Regions from separate parts of the Homo sapiens genome. Here regions 2, 3, 4, 5, 6 and 7 are each linked to region 1. Evidence: fine-mapped expression QTL. A gene starts in region 1. Each other region holds a variant in brackets. All regions are shown on one strand. Distances are between the middles of the regions.

Region 1 (4,063 bases):
CTCCCAGGCACACAGGAGAGACAAACACGGGAGTGCCAGGGCATTCCAAGCAGAAGGCTCTGCATCGACAGGCACACCAGTGAGAAAAGCCACAGACTATGCAGGAAAAATGACTGCACTGTCAGGGACATAAAGCAGGGACTGAAGATGTGGCAGGAGCTGCTGGCAGGAGCCAAACCCAGGACCTCGCTCTGCAGGCCATGAGGAGCTGTGGAAGAGACTTAGGGACACCTGGCTGCCCATGAGCCCCTAGACTGAGTGCCTAGGTCTAGGCTCTTGACCCAGCATCTACAGAAGGCCAGACTCAGGGGAAGTGTCCAGGGAAGGTTCCTGGATAGAGTCAGAGCAGCCAGAGGCTGCCAGATGTTCATGGGGCCAGGCCAGCAGAGGAGGAGAGAAACAGAGGTGACCCAGCCAAAACTCAACCTCCTCCAGGAAGTCGTCTTGGATTTGCCAGCCTCCCACAGCCACCTGCATTCACGGCCTGTGCTGCTGTGTCCAAACATTTGTTCTACCAGATTTCTGCTGCGGTCCTGTGATGTATGGGGTCGAACGGTATGAAAGCAGCGGTTCAGTCGGGGGAAGCACTCCAGTACTAACAAACTTCAGCTTTCTTTCAACTCAATACTGTGTCCACACTGGGAGTATCCTAAGCAACAATCCCCACCCCTGTCTCACAGGCACTAAAGATAAAACAGAAAACAAGCAGATGAGTGACAATGACAAACAAGAAATACTGTAGGGAGAGCGGTCAGAAAGGTGAGCTCAGACATACCGGAAGCGGAGCTGCCCCCAAGCCAGGAGCGAGCCAGGAACTAAAAGAAGAGGCAAGTGTGCAGCAGAGGAAAGAAAGGGCGCCAGGTGTGGCTGGAAAGGCACCTGGCAGGATGAGGGGCGGAGAAGCACCGGCGGAGCAGCACGCGCGAGGCCCATTTTGAGCCGCACCACACCGCTCACAGAACTTCCTGTGATAAGCAGTGTTCCCTACCCGCGCTGCCCCACACAGCCGCCACCAGACACGTGTGGCTACTGAGTGTCGGACATGTGACCACTGGCACGGAGGACCTGAATCCTTCACGTTAAGGACAATGTAAACAGCCACACATGCCTAGGGGCTACCACACTGGACATGGCAGAGCTTCCAGAGCAGGAGGAGTGCGCCATGAGGCAACAAACACGAGGTCCCTGGAGAGTTTCTGCGGGGGCAGCACAGATCAACATCACCTGAAAGTCCCTGGTGGGGATGTCGCAGGCCCCAGTACCCAGGAAGCACCTTCTTACAACTTGGAGAAGGGACAGAAAGGCATGGAGAGGCAAGCACACAGGAACGGGGTCCCCAGCTCAGGCTCGAAGGCGGGCTCCGCTCGTTGAGCTGCAGGGCACCAACCCTTGCACCCAGCAAGTAGGCGCTGGGGCGCTCCCCGGGACGGCACTGACCTCCAGGCGCAGGCACCGGCTGCCCGGCCCAGAGCCCACCGACCTGGGGTCTGAACAGCGCGCGAGGACCCGCCGAGGGGCTCATGTGCCCGCGGGCCGGTCCCCGAAATGCGGCGCTCTCGCGGGGCTGCGGCTCAGGGTCCCTGGCGCCCCTGGGGTCCACCCCCGGCACGGTCCCGCCCCCTCCCCTCCCCACCGGCGCGGCCCCGCCCCCCGCCCGGCCTCCCGCAAGCCCCATACCACGCCACGCCGCGGCCCCCGCCGGGCTCCGGGCCCCGCGCTGGTCCCCGGCCGCCTCGCCCTCGCCGCCCCACGCCCGGCCCCGGCCAGGCCCCAGCCCCACCGCCGCCGCCTCACCTGGGCCTCGGTGGCTCGCGGACCGCTCCGGGCGCTCACGGCGGGCGAGGCGGGCGGGGCGGGCACCCAAACATCACGTGACGGCCCCTCCCGCCGCCGGCGTGCGCGCCCCCTCCCGCACCAGCCAATGGCCGCCGGTCCCGGACGCGCGCGGGGACTACCCGCCCCAGAGGCCCCGGCGCGGAGCCGGAAGCGGCGCGGACGGCGGTCGGCTGGGCCAAGAGGCCTCTGCGGGTGCGCGCGCGAGTCGGCTGTCCTCACTTGCCTGGTGGTGGGCCTCCGTTTCCCCGTTTCCCCGTTTTGCATATGGGGATGACGGCGAAGGTGGAGGTCACGTGGAGGGCGGCGGCCCGGCGCTGAGGCGCTTCGGGAGCGGGCTCCGCCCAGCCCAGGCCGAGCCCGGACCTCACACGGGCCAAAGCTGGAGCTTCTGCGGGGCTGCGCAGGCGGCGGGTCTCGGCCAGGGCAGGGCCGGGCACCTGCGCGTCTCGCGCTGCGGGGACGGGCGTTGGGCCCCAAGTCAGGCTGCACGGGCTCCGCGTGGGGCCGTGCTCGGCCGGGGGCTGGCAGGCCCCGCGGGGACTCCGGACTCCCAGTGTCACCAACGAGGAAACTGAGTCTCAAGACATCTGAGGGACCTTTGCCCGAGGTCGCAGCCCCTCCCTGGAGGAGCTGAAGTGCAGAGTAGGGAGCCCCTTGCGGAGACCCTCCTGGGACCTCCTTCCGCAGGGGCCTGGGGCGCCTCCCTTTCCCTGCTCTGCCTGCGGGCACTGAGCTCCCGAAAGACTCCAGCCCCTCGCTCTCCCGGTGACCTGCTGGAGAAGACACCTGGGAGGAACCTGCGGACAATGGGTGTGTGTCCTTGGGCCGCCAGGGTCACCTTTCAGCCTGTTTCCCCAGAGGTGAACCAAGAGTCACACCCAAGGCAGGAGAGCAAGAGTGATGAGTCCGCTGCACCTTCTCCGGCAAGCGGAGGTTCTCCCGCCGCCCTCACTCTGTGATGCTTGCTGTGCTTGCGAGGCCTACGCCAAAGCCCTGCGGGCAGCCCTGGGCTCCCGCGGACAGCCTTGCTGAGCTCCTGGGAAGGAGGCGTGCCCTCCCCTTCCCCCACCGCCCCGCTGGCTGGGGTTCTCTGCAGCCCAGGACTGTGCATGTGTGCGCACACGGGTTCTGTGAACACGAACACAAAAGTGTGCTCGTGGACACTGCGTGGTACTGTGTGCACACAGCGCACGTCTGTGAGCTGAGGGAGTGTTCCTGGACACCAGGTGCAAGTGCACAAGTGTGTGTATGCTGGCACAAGTGTGTGCCCAGGCGCAAACATGGGAACGGTAGTATATGGCACAAATGTGTGCACACATGGGTGGGAGGGAAGAGGGGCACATGCCCACCAGCATTCCTGGGCTGGTGCTCAGGCCGGCCTGTCCTGGGCCCACCCACGCTCCTTGCCTTGGTGTATTTCAGTCTCCCCTGGGCTCCCAGGAGGCAGTAGTGTGTGCCTGTCTTGCAGCCTCGCCATGATTTGGACAGGGCTTCACTCTTCGGCTAGGACAGCTAGAGTGCAGGGAAGCCGGCTCCTAACCAGGGAGGATGCCCATGACTGCTGACCCCCCAGCTTCCACTTGAAGGGGAAGGTTCGCCAGGACCAATGCCTGTCTGAGAGCTGTCAGTCTGGACTGAGGATGCCGGGTGCCTGGCACGGTGCCCACCTCCCCTTCCGTGGCTGGCGCTGTCTGTCTGGCCGCCACCTCACTCAGCCTCCTCTGACAGCTCCGTGTTCAGGTGTGCAAAGGAGGGGAAAGTGAAGCCCTTTCCTCCCAGGGCAGACCACCTCCAGGAGCCGCTTTCTTGACCATACAAGGCGTATATGGGGCTGTTTCTGTGCCTGGACACTGCAGGGGGAATGGTCTAGCGTGGGTAGGAACCACCAGAGGAGGGGCTCCGTACCTGTTGGCTCCTCCGAAATCTGGGATGAGCCCGCCTGAGTGCCCCACAGCAAGTCAGGGAAGGTAAACCTCTCCGTGGAAGAGCCAGGAGCCCACTCCCTCAGGCTGAGCCGATGGGGAGGGGGAGGAGGATGCTAAGGGGTCCTCAGGAAGGGATGAGGGAAATAGCCAATAGCTGCCTGGGCCTAGGGCCGGGGCTCCCCTCCCTTCCCTCATCTCTGCCCCTCCCTGGAAGAGGTCATCACATGACCTCGGGCAGCTCTGGGCTCCCTCCTTCCTCCAGAGAAGCAGGACTCCCTGGGAAGAACTCTGGTCCCACCCCT
Region 2 (4,063 bases), 140 kb before region 1:
ACACACAGATGCCTGTGTGCACACACAGTACACGAGTGCATAAGCTGTGCACATATACAGGAATGCACACTGGTACATGAAGGCACGCGTGTGCACACTGCACACATGCACACAAATGCACACACACACGGATGCATGCATGCAGGCATATGTAAATGCACGCACCCGCCCACTGCTGCCCCGAGTGCACACCTACGCTGTAGGTGGAACTCAGGGAGTGCTTACTGTATCTTGGACAAGTCTTCTCTTCGCCCCCTGGGCCTTCTGCCTTCCCTCAGTTGGGACCCAGTCAGCTGCAGAACTTGTGCTTTTTTTTTTTTTTTTTTTTTTGAGACAGTGTCTCACTCTGTTGCCCAGGCTGGAGTGCCGTGGCGTGATCTAGGCTCACTGCAACCTCTGCCTCCTGGGTTCAAGCCATTCTCATGCCTCAGCCACCCAAGTAGCTGGGATCACGGGCATGTACCACCACACCTGGCTAATTTTTTTTGTAGTTGTATTAGAGACAGGGTTTTGCTTTTTTATCATATTTTTAGTAGAGACAGAGTTTTGCCATGTTGGGCCAGGCTGGTCTCAAACTCCTGACCTCAAGTGATCCACCCACCTTGGCCTCCCAAAGTGCTGGGATTACAAGCGTGAACCACCACGCCCAGCCAGAACGCATGCCTTTCTGTTGCTCACCTCAGAGACCCCAGAACCCACCCAGCTCAGAGTCTGGAAGAGCCCCAGATGCAGGGCACGGTGCCAGAACAGAGGGGTGTCCAAGGTGTGTGTGGGTGCAGCATCACCGGGGCCCTACTCCCACCGCCAGCCCAAGGGGCCCCTGAGCCACCGCTTTGCACGGTCCGGCAAGCTCAGGCGAGATACATCCAGCCACAGTCACGCTGCAGCTGAGGCGTGGCACAGCCCACCTTGAACCCAGGTCTGTCTGACTCTGAAGTTGCTCCTGAGTCACCAAGGACACTCCCAGGTGAGGTGAGGAGGATGGGCACGTTGTCTGAGGACGGGGCCGAGGGGCAGAAGGGCGACAGCACCCCAACTCCCGTGACTGCTGTCTCTACCCTTCCCTCAGCTGTGAGCCTGGTATTTATTAGACGCAGCAGATTGATTTAAATCTTTGCCTAGGGTTATTTTTCTGTTCAGCATTCTCCCAGAGAAGGACTGGTCAAGTGGGCACGGCCAGAGCTTCTGTAGACAGGAAAGGGCACGGTTTCTGGGGTCCCAGGCCTGAGAGGGCCGAGTTCAGACTGGGTCACCCTCCCTGCCCCCCATACCCCTACAGGCTGTCCTTTACAGCACCTGGAAACACAATTCACATTTACATTTCTCAGCAGACTGGGGGAAGAATCTATAACAATCTGATCACGAAAATGAGATTCTCCAGTGTTCTCTGTACCCGCGGACACTGCAGGCAGCTCAGGCCTCAGCAAAATCCAATTGCTGTTTATTTAACCTGCTTGGCCTCCCAATTAAAAGGCAGCCTCCTTCGCCCCGGACACAGGCCCACGTCCCCCACAAGCAGCCTCTTACAGGGCTGCCACCCCAGCACCGGCGCAGGCCCCTTCCCCTACCGTTCTGCTACTTCCCTGCCTGCAACGTGGCTGCTCCCAGCTCTCAGGATTAGAATACCGAGTTGCTAAGAATGCAACTAAGGGGTTCTGGAAGGAGACTTGGTGGCACGCCTTCCCCCGGGGGCACCTAGGGGATGCCTCGTAGCAAACCCTGAAGGCTGTTGTGGCGAGGAAATTTGGCCCTCAGGAACAGGGCAGTGGTTCAGGGCCTGGTGCACCTTCCCAAACTGGCCCCACCCTGCCCAGGTGCCCTCGGGCCGCAGAGGCCCAGGACTCACCCTCTGCACTCCCCCAGCCCGCCTCTGCTTGGGCCTGGCTTCCAGGCACAGTTAAGTGTCTCTTCCTCCAGGAAGCCTCCCTTGATTCCCTAGAGCCAATGGCTAACTCCTTCCTCCGGTCTCCACAGCCCCGAACCCAGAGCCTGCCACCTGGAAGCCACCTCAGAAAAGCGTGCAACGTCTTACCCTGGGGCAGGCCCCTAATTTTACAGGGAAGAAAGTAGAAAAAGTCAAATCATGATTTCAGCACAACTAGCTCAGAGCCTGAGAGCCACAGAAGCACAACTGTTTAGAGATGGAAAGAGAGAAGGGAAGGAGGGAAGAAAAGCGAGTCGGGAAGTTGAGGGCCAGATGAGCAAGCATGGGCACTGGGGCCGGGTCTGGCAGCCCACTCTCAAGGGACTCAGCCCTCCCTGGCCAGGCGTCCTCTGTCCTCCCTTGGGGCATAAACTGGCCGGGGCCCACGGCCAGGGAGGC[T/C]GGGTGGGTTATCAGCTAACCTTGCCCTTTGTTGGCCTTGGATTAACTCAGAAGCCCAAACTCTTTAGCCACCATCTGACCCAGCCTCACTTCTCAGAACCTTGAGCCCCGTTCCCCTGGAAAGCTTCGATGTGGCCAGAGACCTCTCTGCATGTCTTCATCTCACCCCAGCAGTCGGCTGAGTCCCCCGGGAAAGATCCTGACGCCCCAGCCTCACCAGTTCCTGGGGGAAGCACAGAGGGCACATGCACTCTGTGATCTGCCTTTACTGAGCACCTACTGCATGCAGAGCTCTGCCTCAGGCACTAAAGCCCTGCCCCAGAGCTAATGTTCCACAGGGAGGGAGACCACAGGGCAGAGCCTCTGCAGCTGGGTCAGGGAGGGAAGGGAAGGTGAGGGCAGATCTTCTGATAAGCACATATCTGAGACCTAAGGGGAAGCAGCAAGGCAGGATGCAGAGAGGACAAAGCAGTCAGGGAGGGAGGGAGGGAGGAGAGAGGGAGGGGGGTGGGGAGGGAGGAGAGGAGACAGGGAGGAGAGAAAGAGGAGGGAGGAAGGAAAGAGGGAAGCAGGAGGGAGGAGAGAGGAAAGGAGGAAGGAGGGAAGAGAGGGGGAGCAGGGAAGGAGAGAGAGAGGAGGGAGGGAAGGAGGAAAGAGGTAGAAGGGAGGGAGGAGAGAGGGAAGGATGTGGGAGGAAGGAGAGAGGAAGGGAGGGGAGAGGGAGGAGGGAGAGAAGGGAAGAGGGAGAGAAGGAGAGAGGGAGGAGGGAAGGAAGGAGAGAGAGAGGATAGAGGGAGGGAGGAGGGAAGGAGAGAGGAAGGAGGGATGGAGGAGAGAGGGAGGAGGGAGGGAGGGAGAGTGGGAGGATGAGGGAGGAGGGATGGAGGAGAGAGGGGGGAGGGAGGGATAGTGGGAGGAGAGAGGAAGGAGGGATGAAGGAGAGAGGGAGGACCGGGGAGGGAGAGTGGTGAACACCTGCTGGGAACTCAGCACATGCTGGGATGCTGGCACTCCCTGCTTTCTGTAGTTATTTGAAGACTATAGCCGCTCCCACTGCACAGGCGCTGTGATGCCTCAATGCATTGACCCATGTGAGCCCCAGGATGTTCCTGGCGGAGGAAAGATCTGTGAAGGCAGCATTTCTCCTTGCTCCTCATCCTGGCCACGGCCCCGGGGTGGGGGTGCAGGGGGTTATTATTCTCCTTTAACGATTGCGTTTTCCCGGCCTTCCTGCCAAACCACGAGCTCCGACAAGGCAGCTCACGGGCATAGAGGGGTCTGAGGCTGCCCTCGCTATACCCAGCAGAGCCTCCTCCAACATGCTACGAGTCTGTCCTTCAGACCTGCCCTGGGGGCACAGGTCACAGTGCCAGATGCCAGCCAAGTCCAACCTGGGCAGCAGGGCTTATGCCCAGGAGAGTCCTGCCGGCCACAGCTGCCCAGGGCATCTCCCCAACAGCCACTCCTTCCATCCCACGGCGGGGCCAGCCTGCTCCCAGCCCCATCAACTCTTGCCTGGTGTCCCTCTCACAGGCTCATGAAGCTGCTCACGCCAACCTGCTCATGGTAACAAGACAAGGCCCAGCCCTCCAGCAGACACCGAAGTCCCCTTCAGGCCTGCGGCGACTCCGTGGTGGGACAGCAGTCTCTCTACCTCGTCCTTCTTCTTCCAGGTGGCATGGCTGTTTTTAGGCCTTCGTTTGCTCACAAACTTTATAATCAGCCTGCCAAACTCCTTGA
Region 3 (4,063 bases), 120 kb before region 1:
ATGGAGGCCAAGTCCTTGATGATCTGATTCACATCCAGCAAGTTGCTCTGTGGAAACAACATAGAACCACATCAGGAGCAGGGCTGTGGGGCAGACACCAAGGGCACCTGAAAGTTTCCCATGGAACCTGGGGCGGGCCCAGGTGGCACCTGCAGAATCAGGAACCAGAGAACAGCTGGGGACCGGCTGGTCTGTCCACTTCCTGTGACAGAAGGCATGACTGGGTCCAGAAAGGGCCAGGGGTGAGCCCAGGGTCACCCCAAAAGTCAGAGACAGGGCAGGGATCTGAGTGCTCCATCTCCTGACTCTGAAGCCAAACCCCAACCTCTCCAGGTGTCCTAGGGGCTGTGAGCTGCTTCCCTGAGTACAGAGGTCCCAGGGTCTGTCCCCAGGATTTGCAGTCTAGTGAAGGACAGCATCCCCAGCACTGTAAAGGCCTGACTGCAAGAGAGCAGAGAATGTCTAGGGCAGATATACCATCCCCACTTGCCTGGGTGCTCCTGCACAGAAGGGTCTACCTTTCCCTCTCTGTGTAACAGCACTGAGCATGGGCCAGCACACAGGCACTGCTCAGCAAATCCTAAAGAAGTGGGATAGATGGACGAACGGGTTCAGGGGAGTGGACAAAAGGGTGGATGGGTAGATGAAAGGATGATGGACAGATGCGTGAATAGGTGGGTGGACAAATGGAATGGTGGATGGGTGGGTGGATGGATGAATAGATGGGTGAGTGGATGGATGGGTGGGTGATGGGTGGATGGGCGAGTGGATGGACAGATGAATGGGTGGATGGATGGATGGGTAGATGGATGGATGCGTAGGTGGATGGATGGATGGGTAGGTGGATGGATGGATGGGTAGGTGGATGGATGGATGGGTAGGTGGATAGGTGGTTGGACAGATGGGTGAGTAGATGGATGGGTGGGTGGGTAGATGTATGGATGGGTGAATGGATGGATGGGTGGGTGGGTGGATGGATGGATGGATGGATGGATAGATGTGTGGGTGGGTGGGGTAGGTGGATGGATGGGTGCATGGGTGGGTAGATGGGTGGATAGGTGGGTGGGTGGGTAGATGATGGATGGATGGATGAGGGATAGATGGATGATGGGGGGATAGATGAGTGGGTGAATGGATGGAAGAGTGAATGGACGGTATGTGGATGGATGATGGACAGGTGGGTGGGTGGGTTGGTCAATGAGCGGCTAAGTGGATGGTTGCTCCACTGCTATCCAAGGACTGAGTGGCTCCATGAAGCTAGTGAACAGAGTAAGGAACAGAAACGTGGGCCAGGAGGACTTCGGGTACCCCTCCACCCCGGCATACTGTGCTGGCCTCTTCCATCTTCCATGCTGTCTACCTTTACCCTAACTCCTTTTTCCCAGTTAAGTGGCTCTGATGATCCTAAGAGACGTGGCCACGCCACTCTCAGAGCACACACCTGGGCTGTGCTTCAGGCAAGGCACATACCATCCCCTTCACACCTGGCACCCACCCAGGGGCATCCTAGCACCCATCTAACAGAGCAGGGATTGGGGGCTCAAGTGGTCCCATGACCTCCAGGGCCTCTCGGAAAGGGGAAGAGTTGGGATTCAGACCCCTGCCCACCGACCAGATGCCCACTCCTTCCCTGACTGCCACGCTGCACCTAGGACGGCTCCTCCGCTGGCCAGATGCATGGCCCTGGGCAAGCCTGGCCACCTCAAGCCAGGTTTGCTCACTTATCACCCGAACAAAAGCAACCCTCCTCACATAGCGCCTGGCACATGGCTGGGTTCCAGCCAAGTCCAGGGGAAGATCCTTCAGGCCTGCCGTGACCCCTGCCCTGGCACACCCGTCCAGTCAGCAGCTCATTCCAGAGCTGGGACTGACTTCCATGAGGGTCATTTCACCCCACTGCAAAATGTTACAAGGGAATTCATTTTCTCTTTAGGAGTATTCTGGGAAATGAAGCAATTAGCATGATCTTAAACTGACACGTAGTATCAATTGCAATTCAATTATCAGGCTTAAATGTGATGCAGAGGCAGGCGGTCCCTCTGCAGGAACTGGGCAGT[G/A]GCTGGGAAGGTAGCGAGAAGGTGGGGCCCAGGGGTCATGGCTTCAGTGTGCATCTGTGGCATGGCTATGGGGGCAACAGTGAACGAAAGGATGGGTGCGGGTTGGCCCGGGCCGGTTTCTGGTCTCCTCGTCACCACCACCTTCTGCCAGAGTGAGGTCACGGGTTCTGGAGACCAAGCCTAGGCTCCATCCTACAATGGGGACATCAAGGTCACGAAGTATGGCTCAGCCAGGTGGGTCCCCACCTCCACGGGCTTCCCAGTTATAGACGTGATCCCGTCAGAAGCCAGGCATGACCTCACCACCAACTTCGACCCTGGCCACTGAGCATACCCAGGCCTGGTGCACCCTGAGCCTGGTCTTGGTGGCTCATGGCCTCAGGGACTTGCAGGGGCCTTCCCAAGGGCTTCACAGGCAGAAGCATCTCCTCATGCGGCATGTGACTCACCTGTTATTGCTGCATTTGACAGGGAAGACGGAACCTGAGTCACTGAGAGGGTTAGTGACTGCCCAATGACACACAGCTGGAAAATGCTGGAATCCGCATCCAACCCACATTTAGACAGACTCCAACCCAGGTCACTACCACCATCAACGCGGGGTGGCACCCAAGGCCACCCTCCAGGATGTGGAACCCAGGACCCCGGCCAGATCTCAGGGACAGTGGGCCGCCCTCCAGGTCGTGGAACCCAGGACCCCGGCCAGATCTCAGGGACAGTGGGCCGCCCTCCAGGTCGTGGAACCCAGGACCCCGGCCAGATCTCAGGGACAGTGGGCCGCCCTCCAGGATGTGGAACCCAGGACCCCGGCCAGATCTCAGGGACAGTGGGCCGCCCTCCAGGTCGTGGAACCCAGGACCTCGGCCAGATCTCAGGGACAGTGGGCCACCCTCCAGGATGTGGAACCCAGGACCCCGGCCAGATCTCAGGGACAGTGGGCCGCCCTCCAGGTCGTGGAACCCAGGACCTCGGCCAGATCTCAGGGACAGTGGGCCACCCTCCAGGATGTGGAACCCAGGACCCCGGCCAGATCTCGGGGATGGTGGGGCTCCCTCCAGGATGTGGAACCCAGGACCCCGGCCAGATCTCAGGGACAGTGGGCCGCCCTCCAGGTCGTGGAACCCAGGACCCCGGCCAGATCTCAGGGACAGTGGGCTGCCCTCCAGGTCGTGGAACCCAGGACCCCGGCCAGATCTCAGGGACAGTGGAACCCAGGACCCCAGCCAGATCTCAGGGACAGTGGGCCGCCCTCCAGGTCGTGAAACCCAGGACCCCGGCCAGATCTCAGGGACAGTGGGCCACCCTCCAGGATGTGGAACCCAGGACCCCAGCCAGATCTCAGGGACAGTGGGCCGCCCTCCAGGTCGTGGAACCCAGGACCTCGGCCAGATCTCAGGGACAGTGGGCCGCCCTCCAGGTCGTGGAACCCAGGACCTCGGTCAGATCTCGGGGATCGTGGGGCTCCCTTCAGGACGTCCCGTGCTGCAGCCACCAGCATGGGATGGGCCTTACGTGTGTGCACCCATCAATCTGCTTCCCATGAGCAGGGGCAGAGAAAGGCCACACTGGCATGATGCTGCTGTGTCCCTGGGGGGAAGCATGGCTCCGAGCCCCTGCCCAGCCTGTGGGGATGCAGCTTTGGTGAGAGATGCCAGGGAGGGGTGTGGCTGAGCAAGGCCGGGTCCAGTGCCTTTCAGGGGCCTGGGACGCCCAGCGGCTGGGGCGGGGTGGAAGAGGGGCAGCTGCGAGTCCCTGAGGCTCGGCCTCAGTGTTCCAGGCACGCCTCTGTGCACACACGGCCACTGCACTGGGCGTTCCCTGCTGACATCAGAGTCAACTTCCACAACCCCAAAAGCGCGGGCTGGGACACGGTGTTCCCAAGACAGGCAGAGACCCTGTGGTGCCCCCAGGGCACAGATGGCCTGCATTCTAGGTTTTGGGGGAGGCCCCCGGAGGCAGTGGCAGAAGTGATTTTCCATCTCATCGCCGACACTCACTACCACTGC
Region 4 (4,063 bases), 96 kb before region 1:
ACGCCCAGGAAAGCGGCCAGGCTGGGGTGCGGGCTGTGTGGACACCCAGGAAGGCAGTCACACTGGGATGCGAGCCGTGTGGACACCCAGGAAGGCGGCAGGGCTGGGGTGCGGGCCAGAGGAGACCCCGCAGGTGCTCGGTCTCCCTCACCTCCACAGCGGGAGGATCGGGGGCCTGGTGCCGCTCTCCCCAGCAGTGCAGGACAAAAGCCAGGGGAGGAAGAGATGGCTTAGACGCCCGGGTCCCTCCGCGGCCTCCTCCTGAAAGGCTCACAAAGCGCTCCTTTATTCTCCCCACAAAGGCCCAATTTGGGTCTTGAGCTCCGAGGCTGGGATTAGGGATTTGCTGGCAAGGTGCTGGGGCAAGCGCAGAGGGGACGGCCCTGTGATAGTTTTCCAGCTCAAGAGGCAGACAGACAAAGGCGGCTTTCTCCTCCCCACAGGGCTCAGGGCCTGGGTCCCTGTTCCGACACGTAGGGAAGAGACATGCTCTAACGTGAGTGCTGGAGACAGGGCACACACGGTTTCCCGTGGGAAGAGACTCCGCTCTGCCAGGCATTCAGAAAGCAGGGACCCGAGGCCGGCGCTCAGGGCTCTCCAAGGCTCTGGGAAGGAGACCACTTTCTCATGCACTCCGACCCGAGGGAGGGCAGGGGCCAGGGCAAGAGGCGCTCACACAGGGAGTGGTGGTGTCTTTTCAGGAGCCCCAGATAGCTCACTGTTTCCTCCAAGCAGCAACAGACTCTATTTATTCACTGGTGGAGTCTCTGGAGGCAAAGCCCAGAACATCAGGACGGACACGGCTGTGGCAATGCTTCCCCCAGCCCCACGTTAAATCAAAGGGAAATGGACCCAGAGACAAGGGGCGACCTCCAGCCCTGTGCCTCAAACATGGAGGCGTGTCTAGGCAATTTCCAGCCAGCCCGTGAGAGTGAAGCAGGTCTTCACTTCTGCAGCCCGGCTGGGGACACACGAAGTCCTGGTGGAAATGTAGGCTGAGGTGGCCAGTGACGGCAGAGACAGAGCATGACCTGCCACTGGGGCCATTGCCCTGATGCTGCCCCAGGGACTGGGATGCTGCTCACTGGCTGAGCCCAAGCTGGGTCTGAGACTGACCCTCGACCCAGCTGAAAACTACGGACCACAGCCAGGATCGCCAACTCCACACAGGCTGAGCTGCTCACCCCACACCCAGGGGAGACAGGCAAGAGACGGGGAAGGCAGCAAGTGCCCCTCGCACCTGCCAGGGCTGCCCGGCCTGTGAGTAGCAGCCCCCCAGTCCCCCCACATCAGCCTAGCATCAACTTGGCAACAGTCCTTTTGTTGAACAGGGTTGCATATCATCTCATCATTTATAGTTTGCAAATTCCTAGAAATAATCTAACCTTCCATGATTTCTCAGAAGCACTACTGGCCACTCCCCACCTTTTTAAAAGAAAATTCTACCGAAAGGCAATACATCTGTGTTTCAATGCCAGGTGCAAAGGATATAGCTCTATGACTGCTCACAAAGGAAACACATCCCAGCCAAGACACAGGACACTGG[T/C]CAGGACCCCCGGGGCCTCCCTCCAGCACCTGTCATCCCAGGCCCCCAACAGAGGAGAACCCAGTTCCAACTTCTAACACTGTCCACCAGTGGGGCCTGGTTCTGAATACTACAGAAATGGAATCCCACAGTCTATCCCCTTGGGTCTCAGGCTTCTTGGACTCAGCGTTATGTCCGAGGCATCACTGGTGGGGCCACTGATCATACAGTAGCCACAGCTCACTCTTTTGGCTGCTGTAGAGTCCCCAGTGGCATGAATTCAGCTTGGACTCAGCGTTATGTCCGAGACATCACCAGTGGGCGTGGTGGCCACAGCTCACTCTTTTGGCTGCTGTGGAGTCCCCCGTGGCATGAATTCAGCAGGTGCTGCTTTTCTGTGCTGGTCAGACTGGGCGGTGTTCCAGGTTGTGTCACTGCGTGGGGGCTGCTATGAGCATTCTCCCATGTGACTTCTGTCAACACACAGTTGTCCTGTCTCCACGGGGGAGTGGCCGAGGACTTCCACAGATACCAGAATCTGTGGGTGCGCAAGTCCCTGATATAAAATGACTTGGTATTTTCATACAACCTACGCACATCCTCCCATATATTTAAATCACCTCTAGGTTGCCTATAATATTTAATATGATGTAAATGCTATGTAGTAAATAGCATAGTTGTTCTGCCGTATTGTTTTGGAAATGATGACAAGAAAAGAAGAGGCTGTCCATGTTCAGAACAGCTGCCATCTTTTAAAAATATTTTCAGTCTGAGTGGTGGAATCCATGGATGTGAAACTCATGGATACGAAGGGCCAACTGAATATGCATGTCTGTTGGGCAGAACTGCAAGATCCTAGGTCAGAAAATGCTGAACTTGATATTCTCGAACAGTGTTCCAAAGTGGTGATGCAAAGGCACACCCCACCAGTAAAGGCATGAGAGTGCAACCGCCTGCACGCAGCCCACGCCCGGCTTTTGCAGAGGTTTTCACTCATGTTTGCTCTAGTTATTTGTGTGGGTGTGGTGTGTGGTGATTTACCATCATGGGTTTCTTTGCCATTTTTCTGATAACTCGTGTTGCCAAGTACACAATCACAGGCTTATGAGCCAACCGGAATCCTCTTCTGTGAGGTGCCTGTGGAAAGCTGCTGTCCTTTCATTGTTTTTCAATAGAGTTGTCTGCCCTTTCCTTGTTGATTTGTAAGATATCTTTATATATTAAGGATGTAAGTCCTTTTCACACGTGTTGTACAAACGCCCTGTCTTGTGCTGTGGGCTGCACTCTCTTCCTGGGGTATAATTTTAACAAAGTGTGTCGACCTTCTCCTTTGCGGTTGGCACTTGTGCGTCTGTGTAAGAAATACTTGTCCACCGTGAAGGCGTCGGGGAGCCTCCCATGGTGCCTTCTGGATGTGCTACTGCCTTATCTTTCGCACGTGGGTCTGTAGTCCGGCTGGAAGTGCTTTCTGCACAGGGTGAGCTGACGTTTGCAAAGGGTCCTTTTTTTCCAGTTCAAACATCCGAGTGATCCGTATCAAGCTCTGAATGAATCACCCACCTCCCGTGGCAGGGCAGTCCACCTCGGCCACAAACCCAGCCGCCACGTACGTGTGGTCCGTGTCCAGTCTCCACCCTGTCCCATGCGTTGGTGTGTCCATAGGCTGGTGTGTCCACGGCTTGGTGTGTCCGTGGGCTGGTGTGTCCACGGGCTGGTGTGTCTAGCCTCACACAAACACCACACTGTTTTCATTTCTGTGCTTTATAGTGTGTTCCAATACCTGATAGTATAAATCCCTTTCGTTCTTCTTCAAAATTGCCTTTGCTATCTTGGGTCTTTCATATTTCCATATACATTTTGGAATCAGCTTGACAGTTCACACACACACACACTGAAAACCTGCTGGAACCTTATTGGGATTGTATTGAGCCTACAGATTCACTGGGTGAGAGCTGACATCTCCATACACACGGTATCCCCTCCATGGTTTAGATCATCCACTGGGTGAGAGCTGACATCTCCATAAGCACAGCAACCCCTCCGTGGTTTAGGTCATCTGTCATTTCTCTTAGTAATGTGGCATGTTTTTTAATGTAGAGGCCTTAAACCGCTCTTCATAGAATTTTTTGAAGAAATTTATCTATTGTAATAAATTTATTATATCAGTCTTTAAATTTCCTCTCCAAACTGTCTTTTGCCAGCATACACAATGTCTTCTTGTCTAGTGACCTGTCCTGCCGCATTCACTGATGAATTCTGACAGCACGCTACAGGTGCGTTCGGATTTTCCATGGACATAATCACACTGTCTATGAAACACAGTTTCTTCTCAATCCTACTCTTTTTTTTCATGCCATACTGCGTTGGATACAACTTCTGGCACAATGGGGAACAGAAACCACAGTACTAGATGCCCTAGTTTTATCTTCTATCTTAGGAGAAAAGACTTTAACATCCCTCAGTAAGCCTAACGTTAACTGTAGGGTTTTTGAAGATACCTTCTGGCAGATTAAAGGCACTCCTATCTATTCCTAGTTT
Region 5 (4,063 bases), 190 kb before region 1:
GTTCTCCAGTCATCCCCAAAACTTGGCCCCTCACTTCCTGCCCAGAACTCTGGGCTCTGCCAGGCCCAAGGTCTACCTTGCGCTGGGCCTGGGCTGTTCCCTCTGCTGGAATGATTTTCCCTGCACCCCACTCTCGGTGAGGCCTGTTTAAAATCACAACCAGCCTCATTCCAGCCCCTGCTACGGTCTGAGTGCTTGTGTTCCTCCAAAACTCAAAGGCGAAAATAACCCCCAGGGTGATGCTGTGAAGGGTGGGGCCTCTGGGAAGTGCCGTGGTCCTGAGGGTGCAGCCTCCTGGTGGGATCCAGGCCCCAAGAGCTCCCGCCCTCCCTCCGCCACGTGAGGATGTAGGAGAGGTCACCCTCAGCAGCCCAGAAGGGCCCTATCAGAACCCAGCCCTGGCGGCACCCTGATCTGGGACTTCCAGCCTCCAGGGCAAAGAGCAGTTTCTTCTGTGGTAGAAGCCGCCTGTGGTGCTTGGTTACAGCAGCTGAGCTGATAAGGACCCCTCACCGACAAGGGCTCCCTCCCCCAGCGCTTCCCACCTCAGGGGCTTCACCTCTGGCCTCATCACACTCTGTCCATGCTCCTAGCCAGACAGTTGCACCTGCAGGCAGAGACCTGTCCTGTCCATGGAGGTGTCCACAGAGGTGTCCCCGGGCCCAGGCCAGGGCCCGCACGGACACCATGAATGCGTATTGATCGAGTGAACAAATCTGTGATGTGCACGGCTGTTTCCAACTCCCAGGCACTGCACTGCTCTGGCAGAGTGACTGCCAGACCAGGATCCAGCTGTGTTCGGAGGCACCCCCCACTTCCTAGCTGCCTGGGGATGAGGGTGGGGGCGCCCCAAGGATGGTGGTGCTCAGCGTGCCCCTCAACACAACGCAGTGTCCTGGTGTCAGTGGACAGGGTCTAATGCGAGGTGGCAGCAATGGTGGTCAGGGAGCAGCCTTGCAGTGCCTGATGCCCCCATCTTCTGGCCAGAACTGCCCCTCCCATCCCCACATGTGTCCCCCAAGATTGGGAACTGGGTCTCATCCATTGCCCTTGTCCACCACCACCCCTCAGCCTCCCCACACACACTCTGTCCAAGCCAGGGCAGCAGGGCCCAGCCTCGAACCTGAGAACCCCCAGGAGAGCTGTCCCCCGTGACCTACCAGGGAGTCCTCCCTGCCCTCACACCTGGAGGGCAGACTGAGCCGAGAGAGGGGAAGGGCAGGCCAAGGGGGCAGCAGCCTGGGAGGGAAGTCCCTGCCCCACCCAGTACACACCTGTGAGAGGCCAGCTGGCAGTGGCAGCCCCATGTGGGCACCTTTGCTGAGGCTGCCAGCTCAGCCCCACCCAGCTGGGCCTGGACACGCCCTTCAGCATCTAGTGCAGGCCACATTCCCCTGAGCTCTGGAGGCTTGAAGGTCAATGGGCCAACCCTCCGCCTGCACCCCAGGCTGGCTTTGTGGTGCCATGGAATTCGGGGTGAGGCCTGGCTGGGGATACAGGGATGGATGGCCCT[C/T]GGGCCCTGTGCAAATTCAGCCCAGCCTCTGCCTGCCTCAGCAGATGGCATGTGGCATCTGCCGGCTGAGTGGCCCTGTGATGGGGCAGATCTGAGGGGGAAAGGTTCCCATGGCATCCTCTAGGCCCAAGCCATGAGCCTTCCCCACTCCCTGCCGCCCCTCAGCCCCAGCTCCTCCAGACCCCTAGCTGGGTCTCTTCACCCCCAGGGCCCGGTGTAGAAGAAGCTCCCACCTCTGCCATGGTGCCCCCGCCCCTCCTCTGAGGGCTGAGCCTCAGCCATATGGCACTGAAATGAATGCTGCTGGGGAGATCTTTGGATTGGAACAGATGGGCGGACGCTGGTGCAGTGCAGAGAGGCAGGGGCTGGGGGTGTGGGGCTGGGAAGGATGAGGCCTGGGCTCTCCCTGATCAGCTGAGTAGCACAGGTATAATCACTGGGACTTGAGGAGCTGCCTGGGCTCTGGCGTCCTCTGGCCACACGCTCGGGGGCCCAAGAGGGGTCTCCAGGAAGATGCTACTGCAGGGTTATGGAAATTGGCTCTCAGGGAGATGAGGCTGGAGGGTGTCGGCCTCCCGGCCTGGCACAGCAGCATAGCACCCCCTGTCCCACCCCACCCCTCCCCGCACTGGTCAGCAGCCTGGGCACGGGGCACAGGGCTCTGCCTCACTCCATCCTCTCCCTCCTGCCTGAGAGGAGCAAAGCCTGGGGTGGGGGACGAGCAGAGGCACAGACTCAGGCCGGCCCAAAGTCCTTGGCAAGGATCAACCCCTCTGAGCTGTCCTCATATCTGTAAAATGGGCAGATACTTGGCACCGACCCTGCCTGGTTGTTTATCCTCCTCTCAGTCGACAAATCTGCCTCGGACATCCCTGGGCCCCACACTGGGCTGGACACCAGACAGCAGGGGAACCGGGGTTTCAGCCCCCATCAGAGGGGAGATGAAACAGGGAGAGGAGACGGTAGGTGAACAGTCGTGGAGAAACTGCCTAAGGACCGGGCGCGGTGGCTCACACCTGTAATCCCAGCACTTTGGGAGGCCGAGGCAGGCAGATCACGAGGTCAGGAGATCAAGACTATCCTGGCTAACACAGTGAAACCTTGACTCTACTAAAAATACAAAAAATTAGCAAGGCATGGTGGCACATGCCTGTAATCCCAGCTACTCAGGAGGCTGAGGCAAGAGAATCACTTGAACCCTGGGAGGTGGAGGTTGCAGTGAGCCGAGATAGGGCCACTGCACTCCAACCTGGGCAACAGAGCAAGACTCTGTCTCAAAAATAAAATAATAAAATAAAATAAAATAATAAAATAAAAAGAAGAAAGAAAGAAAGAAAAAGAAAGAAAGAAAGAAAGAAAGAAAGAAAGAAAGAAAGAAAGAAAGAAAGAAAGAAAGAAAGAAAGAAAAAAGGGAAAGAAAGAAAAAGCAAGCAAGCAACGGCGTAAGGAATGGCTGACCCCACAAGAGGCTTGGGCCCCTCTGCTGCTGTCCATGGTGCTGAGATCTTGAATGCTGGCCAGAGGCGAGAGCCAGCAGGCAGGCAGGGGCAGGTGGTCATGGGCAGGGGTGAGCCCTTGAACTGGGTTTATCACCTAAAAGGTGACTCTGACCTACTCACTTCAGCTACGTCAGCATCAACTTTTTGCTCCAGGGAAACAGTGTGCATGCACCATGCTTTCTGGCCTCATCAATGAAGGGTCAGGGCTAGTCCATAGCCAGGTTTAGGTTCAGCCTGTGACCAAGGTCAGGGCTCAAAATGTAACTAGAATTAGGGTCAGTGTGTGACCAGGATCAGAGCTTAGTTTGTGACCAGGATCAGCGTTCAGGGTGTGGCCAGGATCAGCGTTCAGGGTGTGAGCAGGATCAGGGCTCAGTGTGTGAGCAGGATCAGGGCTCAGTGTGTGGCCAGGATCAGGGCTCAGTGTGTGACCAGGATCAGGGCTCAGAGTGTGAACAGGATCAGGGCTCAGAGTATGAGCAGGATCAGGGCTCAGTGTGTGACCAGGATCAGGGCTCAGAGTATGAGCAGGATCAGGGCTCAGTGTGTGGCCAGGATCAGGGCCCAGTATGTGACCAGGATCAGGGCTCAGAGTGTGAGCAGGATCAGGGTTCAGAGAGTGGCCAGGTCAGGGCTCAGTGTGTGACCAGGATCAGGGCTCCGTGTGACCAGGATCAGGCTCAGTGTGTGGCCAGGGTCAGGCCTCAGTGTGACCAGGATCAGGACTCAGAGTGTGACCAGAGTCAGGGCTTAACGTGTGACCAAGATCTGGGTTCAGTGTGACCGGGATCAGGCTCAGGGTGTGGCCAGGGTCAGGGCTCAGGGTGTGGCCAGGGTCAGGGCTCAGCGTGTGACCAGGTCATATCCAGTGTCCACCCTGGAGAGCTGCCTGTTGAGGCACCACGAGGGCCAGACCACTTTGTGGGCTCCCTGGAGCTTCACTGTGTGGGTTTCTAGGCCTTCTTGGAGCACAGACCACTCAGAGCCTGGTCTGGTTGGGAACAGTGCCCATCCCTCAGCTCACTGCCAATGTCCCTCAGACATGTCCCCC
Region 6 (4,063 bases), 79 kb before region 1:
GAAGTCCAGCTTGGCCGTGCCTGTGGGCTGGGCGACGATGTTGTTATGAAAGGCTGGCCTGGCTGTGTCCATGGGCTGGATGATATTGTTATGAAAGGCCGGCCTTACCGTGTCTGTGGGTTGGACAACGATACTATTACGAAAGGCCGGCCTGGCCGTGTCTGTGGGCTGATGACGATATTGTTATGAAAGGCCAGCCTGGACGTGTCCATGGGCTGGATGATATTGTTATGAAAGGCCGGCCTTACCGTGTCCGTGGGTTGGACAACGATACTATTATGAAAGGCCGGTCTGGCCGTGTCTGTGGGCTGGATGATATTGTTATGAAAGGCCGGCCTGGACATGTCTGTGGGCTGGATGACAATACTGTTATGAAAGGCCGGCCTGGCTGCATCCGTGGGCTGATGACGATATTGTTATTAAAGGCCAGCCTAGCCATGTCTGTGGGCTGGATGACGATATTGTTATGATGCCAGTTCTTTAATTTATCCACAGATTCAAGGTAATCCCAAAAAATTATAGAAAGCTTTTTTTTAAAGAAATAATAATTGACAAACTGATTCTAAAATGTATACTGAGCTACAAAGGGGTATGAGAGGAGGAGATGCGTTTGGGCAGCACGGGGGGCAGCACCAGCATGGCTGGCTGAACACTGTGGCATGGGGCAGGCGAGGCGAGGAACAGCTCGTGGCCACCTCCTGGGTCTCCAGAGTGGACAGTGAGCCATCGGGGACTCTCTGGAACTTCTGCCTGTCGCCAAAGTATGAGAGACATCCTAAAGACGCACTTTTAGGCAGACTCCTGCTGGCAAGGGGAGGCCTCGTGAGGGGCAACGGGGCAGCAAGGCCAAGTGTGGGTCCCACTGGAGGGGGCTCCTCCGGGAAATGGCGACTCCAATCTGAGGCTGGACACTGCTCCAAAGGCCGAGGTGCCTCAGCAAGGGCAACAGAGCAACCCAGGACCAGCAGGGCACTTGGCCCAAGGACACGGGAGCTCACACTGTCAGAGCCAGGGAGTCACCATCCTCACTAGAAAATGGACTGATGATGTCAGCATTCCCACTCGCCATCACGAGGCAGTTGCCACAACAACAAATAGAGTGCCCCTCCCGCTTGTGTCTCACTTCCCCATCCATCCTCACGGCCACCGAGGGAGGGGTCCCACTCCATCACCATAGCATGCATGGCTTGGGGAACAGCAGTGGATCCAGTGCAGGGAGATGGATGAGACTGCACCTGTCTTATGACCCCAACACCAGCGAGGCCCATGTCAGTGAACCTGTGACCCTCACCCGCCCTGGACTGCTTCAGCCAGGAGCCAAGTGAGGCAGAGAAGGCTGGAAACGCTAGCTGTACATTGAGAGAGCGGGCCCATCTCTCCACATTCAATGTGGGATACAGATGCAATGCCCGGAACCATAAGACCCATTTGTCACCTCAAGAGAAGCTGGCCTGAGATTGAATCTGATGCATCAGCAGAGCCAAAAGAAACCAAGTGAACTGGAGCCTTCATCAAACTGCACCTGAAGCCCCACGACCGCTTTACAAAACCCATGTATCCCCACAAAGCCAGCTCTGCACAGTTTTGGTGAAAGGCCAGGCAGGCGGCTACAGGGTCCAGGAAACCTGACCCAAGCATCCCTCTCCCAGCACTCCTGTGCGAGGTCTGCACAGCTGCCAGCTCGGCGGCTCCTGTACTACCAGCCAGGTGGTGCCGTTGCTGCCAGCAGTCAGGTGACTGAGGAGTCTGCGAGGCCTGCCTGGGGGGTGTGTCACCTGAGGCCCATTTGCCCTAGCGCCCTGCCCTAGTCTGCCGGGGCCAGAACCGACCTGAGTACGGAGGCTCTCGCATTTGCTTGTCATTACTTAAGATGCCGTTTAGAAGCACCTCATGTCCCGCGTATCTCATACCTGCTCATTTACTCCCATGACCACCTGTGTTTTACAGACGAAGACACAAGGCCCTGAGTCACAAAAGCACCTGCAGGCTGGAGCTGGTGAGCTGGAGTGGGCAGAGGTAGGGTCAGGACCAGCCCAGGCTCCCTGGCACCGGGTCCCGAGCTCTCCCAGCCTCCATGCCAGCTTCCAGGTGACACACTCGCCCTGGAAGGCACCCTGCTGCCCACTCCAGACTCGAGTGGTTAATCGGCGCTCCCGCCCCTCTGTCCGTGTTCCTAGTGACTGCGACGCCCCTGCCGGTCCCTCGGCTGAGGGGGCTGTGGGAAGAGCCTGTGGCTGGGCTGGTTTGATTTCCTGGTTCCTGCCCTTTCCCAGTAGGTACACTGCCCCGTCCTAGACCTGGCAACACCCCAGGAGTGACTCCATGTAGACCACGGCCCAGTTTCATGAGCAGGTGATGCCCAAGTCAACACAACGCAGTGGTGTTGGTGCACAGACCCAGGGACCGCCCACGGTGGAGGAGGTGGCCAGGGCGAGTGGGCCGGCAAGGCCTGGACTGAGCGGGCCTGGAAGTGAGGCCGGCAGAGGGCAGCGCGGGCAGAAGCCTGAGGCCGTGGGACTGGAGGGG[G/C]TGGTGTGGCCCATGAGACAGGTCTACAGTTGTCAGGGTCATGCTGGGCGGACCTGAAAGGCCACAACACAGACTCTGGGTTTTACTTTACAGGGAGGGAGGCCAGTGGAACATCCTGAGCAGGAACTGATGTGATCAGATCCACATTTTTAAAGATCGCTTTGAGCTCTGCATGGACAATCCACCGTCGGGGGCAAGACTAGGGGTGGGGAGGCCAAGAGGAGACAGTGCAGGAGCCCAGGGGCCAAGGCCGGGCCTGGACCAGGAGGTGGAGAGGAGGTGAGAAGTGCGTGGACACGGGGCAGCTCAAGAGGAGTGGACAGGCCAGCCCACGACCGGTGAGGGCAGGGTGGCGTGGGGTCCTGGAGGTCCCTTCCTTGGCCTGGGACTAACAGGGAGACCCCAGGTCAGTCCAGAAGGACCCTAAGTTAGCAGGAGAGAAGGTGGCAGGGCTGGAGGGACACCTGGGGTTCTGGGGCCCCACTGAGGAGGGATTCCGAGCTGCGGGATATGCAACACCACCAAGGGAGGGGAGGAGGTCAGAGAGGAAAAGAGGCTGGAGTAGATGGATGACGAACCAGCACCAACGAAGACCAGGGCCCTGGAGAGCATGAGAGGGATGAGGAACCAGCACCAGTGAAGGGGAGGGGCCCCAGAGAGCACGAGACGGATGACGAACCAGCACCAGCGAAGGGGAGGGCCCCGGAGAGCACGAGACGGATGACGAACCAGCACCAGCGAAGGGGAGGGCCCCGGAGGGCATGAGACAGATGAGGAACCAGCACCAGCGAAGGGGAGGGCCCTGGAGAGCATGAGACGGATGACGAACCAGCACCAGTGAAGGCCCCGGAGAGCACGAGACGGATGACGAACCAGCACCAGCGAAGGGGAGGGCCCCGGAGACCACGAGACAGATGAGGAACCAGCACCAGCTAAGGGGAGGGCCCCGGAGAGCACGAGACGGATGAGGAACCAGCACCAGCGAAGGGGAGGGCCCTGGAGAGCATGAGACGGATGAGGAACCAGCACCAGCGAAGGGGAGGGCCCCGGAGACCACGAGACGGATGACGAACCAGCACCAACGAAGGGGAGGGCCCCAGAGACCACGAGACAGATGAGGAACCAGCATCAGCGAAGGGGAGGGCCCCAGAGAGCACGAGACGGATGAGGAACCAGCACCAGCGAAGGGGAGGGCCCCGGAGACCATGAGACGGATGACGAACCAGCACCAGCGAAGGGGAGGGCCCCGGAGGGCATGAGACAGATGAGGAACCAGCACCAGCGAAGGGGAGGGCCCCGGAGAGCACGAGACAGATGAGGAACCAGCACCAGCGAAGGGGAGGGCCCCGGAGAGCACGAGACAGATGAGGAACCAGCACCAGCGAAGGGGAGGGGCCCCGGAGAGCATGAGACGGATGAGGAACCAGCACCAGCGAAGGGGAGGGCCCCAGAGAGCACGAGACGGATGAGGAACCAGCACCAGTAAAGGCCCTGGAGAGCATGGGCTGCACAGCAGGAGGAAACTTCTAGAAGGAAT
Region 7 (4,063 bases), 86 kb before region 1:
ACAGTGCTCCGGGAACCGAGGCCGACCCCACCTGGCCTGCAGACCCCCACTGCCCCCACCAGCACCTCACCTTCTGCACCACTCCATAGCACTGAATGGCATCTGAGAGCTGGGTTTTCAGCCGGTCCAGCTGAGGACGCTCCTGCTGCAGACGCTCCTGCTGCAGAGAAGGTACAGCTGGCACGGCATGGGAGGCTTGGCCCTGCCCCAGCAGCCCCCACCACCCACACCTCCTCCCGTACCGATGTCCCACCTTCCCACACTCAGAATGGGGCTCGCCATCAACTACTTCCCCTCCGTGTCACCGTCGTCTCCACAGGCACACCCAGGGTCCCCAGGGACACCATCACCACAAAATCCGGTGCAGGGGTCAACACCACCTGCCGGAGCCAGGAGCTACCCAAGGCACATAAACCCGGCCCCACACCACCTCCGCGAGCAGCACTGTGACTCCTCTTCCACAGCGCAGGACGTCGTGGCCCTGAGTCCCGAGTGACTTGTCTGTGGTCACATAGGTGGTGGGGCCACTGCCAGAACCATCCCCCTCCCCAGCATCTCGCCTGTATCTGGGCTCCCCGTGGCCTCCAGGGTCCACCAACCCCAGTTCCTTCCTGCTGGGATGTTCGCCACCACACCTCAGTGCCCACCAGGCACCTGCTTCAGAGCTGGAGCTGGAGAAGCACGGAGCCGGGGTGGGGCTGGACACGCACGGAGCCGGGGTGGGGCTGGACACGCAGCCCTGGGGCCCGCCTCATTGCTCTGGCTCACCGTGGACACCACCCACCAGCAGCAGCACCAAGGAGCCCACAGCTTCCTCCCAGCACCCACCCCATGGCTATCGGAGGATTGGAGAGAGCCAAGGCTAAGGCGGGCTGGTCTGGGGTAAACCTCTGACAGCCGAGGGGCACTGGGAGCAGCCTACCACAGCCTTGACCTCTTCCCACAATCGAAGGCACTACATCTCATCAAAGCGTCCACGGCCCACAGAGTCAAAGACGTGGTAGGCACTGACCGTGCACCCACCAAGCCGCGTGAAGGAGCCATTCGCTTCACGAGGAAACTGCCTGCACGGACCACCCAACTCTGCTCTCACCCCACAGAAACGCCTCTCAGAATCGCAACCCTCCACCATGTGGGGCCTTGCTCAGCACCTCACGTAAGCGCAGCGCCTCCCGTAAGAGGGACCCAGCGTGTATTCTTGGATGAAGGAGTAAATGAATAAGTGACTCAGGCACACCTGAGTCAGAGAATGGAGAACAAAGCTACAGAGGAAGAGGTCAGACACAGGCGTCGATGCTGGTCATGACGCTGCTGACATCACTGCCCGAGGGCACAGGCCAGGGCAGCACCTGGTCCCCACAGAGTGGTCCCCGCAGGGCAGCCATGGCTATGAGGAGTGACCCATGCATGGAAAGGCTCCAGGCCGCTCAGCACAAAGCTCCCAGTGTTCCTGTCATCTGCCTTTAGGGAGACTCTGGCCACCCCATCACTGGACAGGGGACTGCTGCCTCTGTTACAGTTTTTTAGTGTAACTAACTTTTGAACTGACTCTACTTTTTTAAGTACAAGTTTTATTACTGTCTAATTTAGATCTGATAAAATCTACCCGCTTTAAGTGTAGAGTTCAGTAACTCTTAGTTGTACAGCCATCCCCACAACCCAGTTTTAGAACATGCCCATCACCCCAGAAAGGGCCCTGCGCCTTGCCTGCAGGCACCCCAAAACCAAGCCCTGCTCCCAACCCTGACAACTGCTCATCGACTTCTGGTCTCCACAGATTGCATTTTCTGGATGTTTCACACAAACAGAACCATACACTGTGCGTTTTCTTGCGTGGGGGCATGCAGTCTTCCAGCCTCACCACATTGTGGCCTGCCTAACTCTCCGCTCCTCACTGCTGACCACACCCAACACGGCACTGGCCACGTCACATGTATTTTCCACAGGGAGGGCGGCATGCA[T/C]TTCCCCTGTAGGACTGGCTGAGCCACGCTGCTGGCTCTGCAGCAGGCCGAACTTGCAACCCCAGCCCTCCCAAGGCAGTGAGAGCAACTATGGGCAGCACCTACGGCAGGGACAGATTGGCGTCTCGCTCACACTGTGCACGTGAAGCAGGTGCGGCCAGCAGCTCACACTGCACACATGAAGCGGGTATGGCCAGCGGCTCACACTGCACGCGTGAAGTGGGTACGACCAGTGGCTCACACTGTACGCATGAAGCGGGTATGGCCAGCGGCTCACACTGTACGCATGAAGCGGGTATGGCCAGCGGCTCACACTGCACGCGTGAAGCGGGTACGACCAGCGGCTCACACTGTACGCGTGAAGCGGGTATGGCCAGCGGCTCACACTGTACGCGTGAAGCGGGTATGGCCAGCGGCTCACACTGTACGTGTGAAGCGGGTATGGCCAGCGGCTCACACTGTACGCGTGAAGCGGGTATGGCCAGCGGCTCACACTGTACGCGTGAAGCGGGTATGGCCAGCGGCTCACACTGTACACATCAAGCGGGTGTGGGCAAGCGGCTCACACTGTATACATGAAGCAGGTACAGCCAGAGTCTCACACTGTGCTTATGAAGCGGGTTCGGGCCAGCAGGCTGCAGCTTGCTGACTCCTGCCCTGTAAAATCTTAGGGTTCAGCAGTATTTAATCTTTTGTCACAAGTACCCTCCAATCTTCAGCAACTGGGCACTGACCTGGTGTGGTGGAGCGGAGGGTGTGGGGACAGTCAGAAGTGGGGACAGGGCCAGGCGTGGTGGCTCATGCCTGTAATCCCAGCACTTTGGGAGGCAGAGGTGGGAGGATCACTTGAGGCCGGGAGTTTGAGACCAGCCTGAGCAACATGGTGAAACCCCACCTCTACTAAAAACACAAAAATTAGCTGGGCATGGTGACGGGCGCCTGTAATCTCAGGTACTCAGGAGGCTGAGGCATGAGAATCACTTGAACCCTGGGGGCAGAAGCTGCAGTGAGCCAAGATCATGCCACTGCACTTCAGCCTGGGAGACAGAGCAAGACTCCGTCTCAAAAACACAAAAAAAAATTGCGGACAGGGTGGAAATGAGGGAACAGCCCTGGGGCAGCTGAGCCGGAACGGTAGTGATGGCTGTGGCAGTGGGTATGCTGATGGCCACTGCCACGGCCATATGTCTGGCTTGAGGCCCATGCGTCTGATAAGGCGCCAAGGTAGGTGAGGGGATAGGGAGGGTGCACGTGCAGGTGGCCTTGGGTGGCGGATGCAGCAGAGGGGCAGGGGATGCACAGCAGGGGAGAGGATGGTGAAACAAACAATGGCGGGCCATCAGCTTCCAGTAAGGCCTTGCCAGGAAGACCCAGGGTGCTCTTGTCCCCACTACTGCATAAGCCAAGGACAGCAAGAGTTCAGGTGGCCACACCAGCTCCCGGCACGTGGTCAGCACACGGCTGCTGCCTGAATGGCTGCACACAGGTTCTGAGCCATGGAGCCATGGGAGGCTGGGTGCCAGGCCAGTCTGTGTCCATCCACACACGTCAGCCTCCCTGTATCCTGCCTCGTGTGACATCCCTGCTCCCATCACAGGCAGAGGGGTCCATTCCTCTCCTCCCTCCCAGCCCCAGACCCCAGGAACATACCGGGCAGGAGCTGCGCAGCAGCTCGGCCATCTGCTTCACGGAGCTGGCGCTGGCTGCAATGGTCTTGTTGGTCTCCTGCTGTGCCGTGTGCCTGGGGGCCGAGAAGGAGCCAGGAGCGAAGGCAGGGGAGGAAGGCAGCAGAGAGCAAGGGCCCAGAAGGACGGAGCAAGCAGGGACGCACGGGCCGAGTGGGGGAGACAGAGACAGATGGATGGACAGGCGGAGAGAGGGCCGAGAGACACACAGAGACAGAGAAAACAGCAGAGAGGAAAACAAGAGTAGGGAAAGGGTAGCAAACAGAAAGAGGCAAAGACTCAGAGAAAGAGAGAAGGGAACAGAGACAAGAGCAGCGATGATTCCCACAGAGAAAGAGGAGGGGGCCCAAGAGCCAGGACAGGGAGAGACAGGCAGACACCCAGCAAGAGACGGGGGAGACGGGCAGACACCCAGCA

What was found. PIP is the estimated chance that this variant, and not a neighbour inherited with it, causes the effect.
Region 2: its variant is the best candidate, but not a certain one, in a credible set for the expression of TSNARE1 in esophagus muscle (GTEx, PIP 0.58).
Region 3: its variant is the best candidate, but not a certain one, in a credible set for the expression of TSNARE1 in tibial nerve (GTEx, PIP 0.79).
Region 4: its variant is the best candidate, but not a certain one, in a credible set for the expression of TSNARE1 in spinal cord (GTEx, PIP 0.90).
Region 5: its variant is the best candidate, but not a certain one, in a credible set for the expression of TSNARE1 in whole blood (INTERVAL, PIP 0.86).
Region 6: its variant is the best candidate, but not a certain one, in a credible set for the expression of TSNARE1 in prefrontal cortex (ROSMAP, PIP 0.59).
Region 7: its variant is the best candidate, but not a certain one, in a credible set for the expression of TSNARE1 in visceral fat (GTEx, PIP 0.58).

Annotation. Positions count from the first base shown.
Region 1 is chr8:142,401,310-142,405,372 of GRCh38, forward strand. It overlaps TSNARE1 (t-SNARE domain containing 1), which reads right to left and starts at 1,873. Exons shown (of 14, transcript NM_145003.5): 1 at 1,795-1,873. RefSeq lists silencers at 1,432-1,571, 1,712-2,281, 2,722-2,771 and an enhancer at 2,003-2,778.
Region 2 is chr8:142,258,170-142,262,232 of GRCh38, forward strand. The region is part of intron 12 of TSNARE1 (t-SNARE domain containing 1); the gene reads right to left. Among named protein-coding and RNA genes, the nearest start is that of LINC00051, 62 kb to the left of the region's middle. RefSeq lists an enhancer at 1,878-2,378. The variant T/C (reference allele first, on the strand shown) is at 2,324.
Region 3 is chr8:142,284,439-142,288,501 of GRCh38, forward strand. It overlaps TSNARE1 (t-SNARE domain containing 1), which reads right to left. Exons shown (of 14, transcript NM_145003.5): 11 at 1-47. Among named protein-coding and RNA genes, the nearest start is that of LINC00051, 88 kb to the left of the region's middle. The variant G/A (reference allele first, on the strand shown) is at 2,058.
Region 4 is chr8:142,305,383-142,309,445 of GRCh38, forward strand. All of the region lies in intron 9 of TSNARE1 (t-SNARE domain containing 1), which reads right to left. Among named protein-coding and RNA genes, the nearest start is that of TSNARE1, 96 kb to the right of the region's middle. The variant T/C (reference allele first, on the strand shown) is at 1,547.
Region 5 is chr8:142,214,455-142,218,517 of GRCh38, forward strand. All of the region lies in intron 13 of TSNARE1 (t-SNARE domain containing 1), which reads right to left. Among named protein-coding and RNA genes, the nearest start is that of LINC00051, 18 kb to the left of the region's middle. The variant C/T (reference allele first, on the strand shown) is at 1,514.
Region 6 is chr8:142,322,698-142,326,760 of GRCh38, forward strand. All of the region lies in intron 6 of TSNARE1 (t-SNARE domain containing 1), which reads right to left. Among named protein-coding and RNA genes, the nearest start is that of TSNARE1, 78 kb to the right of the region's middle. RefSeq lists enhancers at 3,272-3,471, 3,782-3,921. The variant G/C (reference allele first, on the strand shown) is at 2,527.
Region 7 is chr8:142,314,933-142,318,995 of GRCh38, forward strand. TSNARE1 (t-SNARE domain containing 1) reads right to left here. Exons shown (of 14, transcript NM_145003.5): 7 at 3,612-3,702; 8 at 71-160. Among named protein-coding and RNA genes, the nearest start is that of TSNARE1, 86 kb to the right of the region's middle. The variant T/C (reference allele first, on the strand shown) is at 1,962.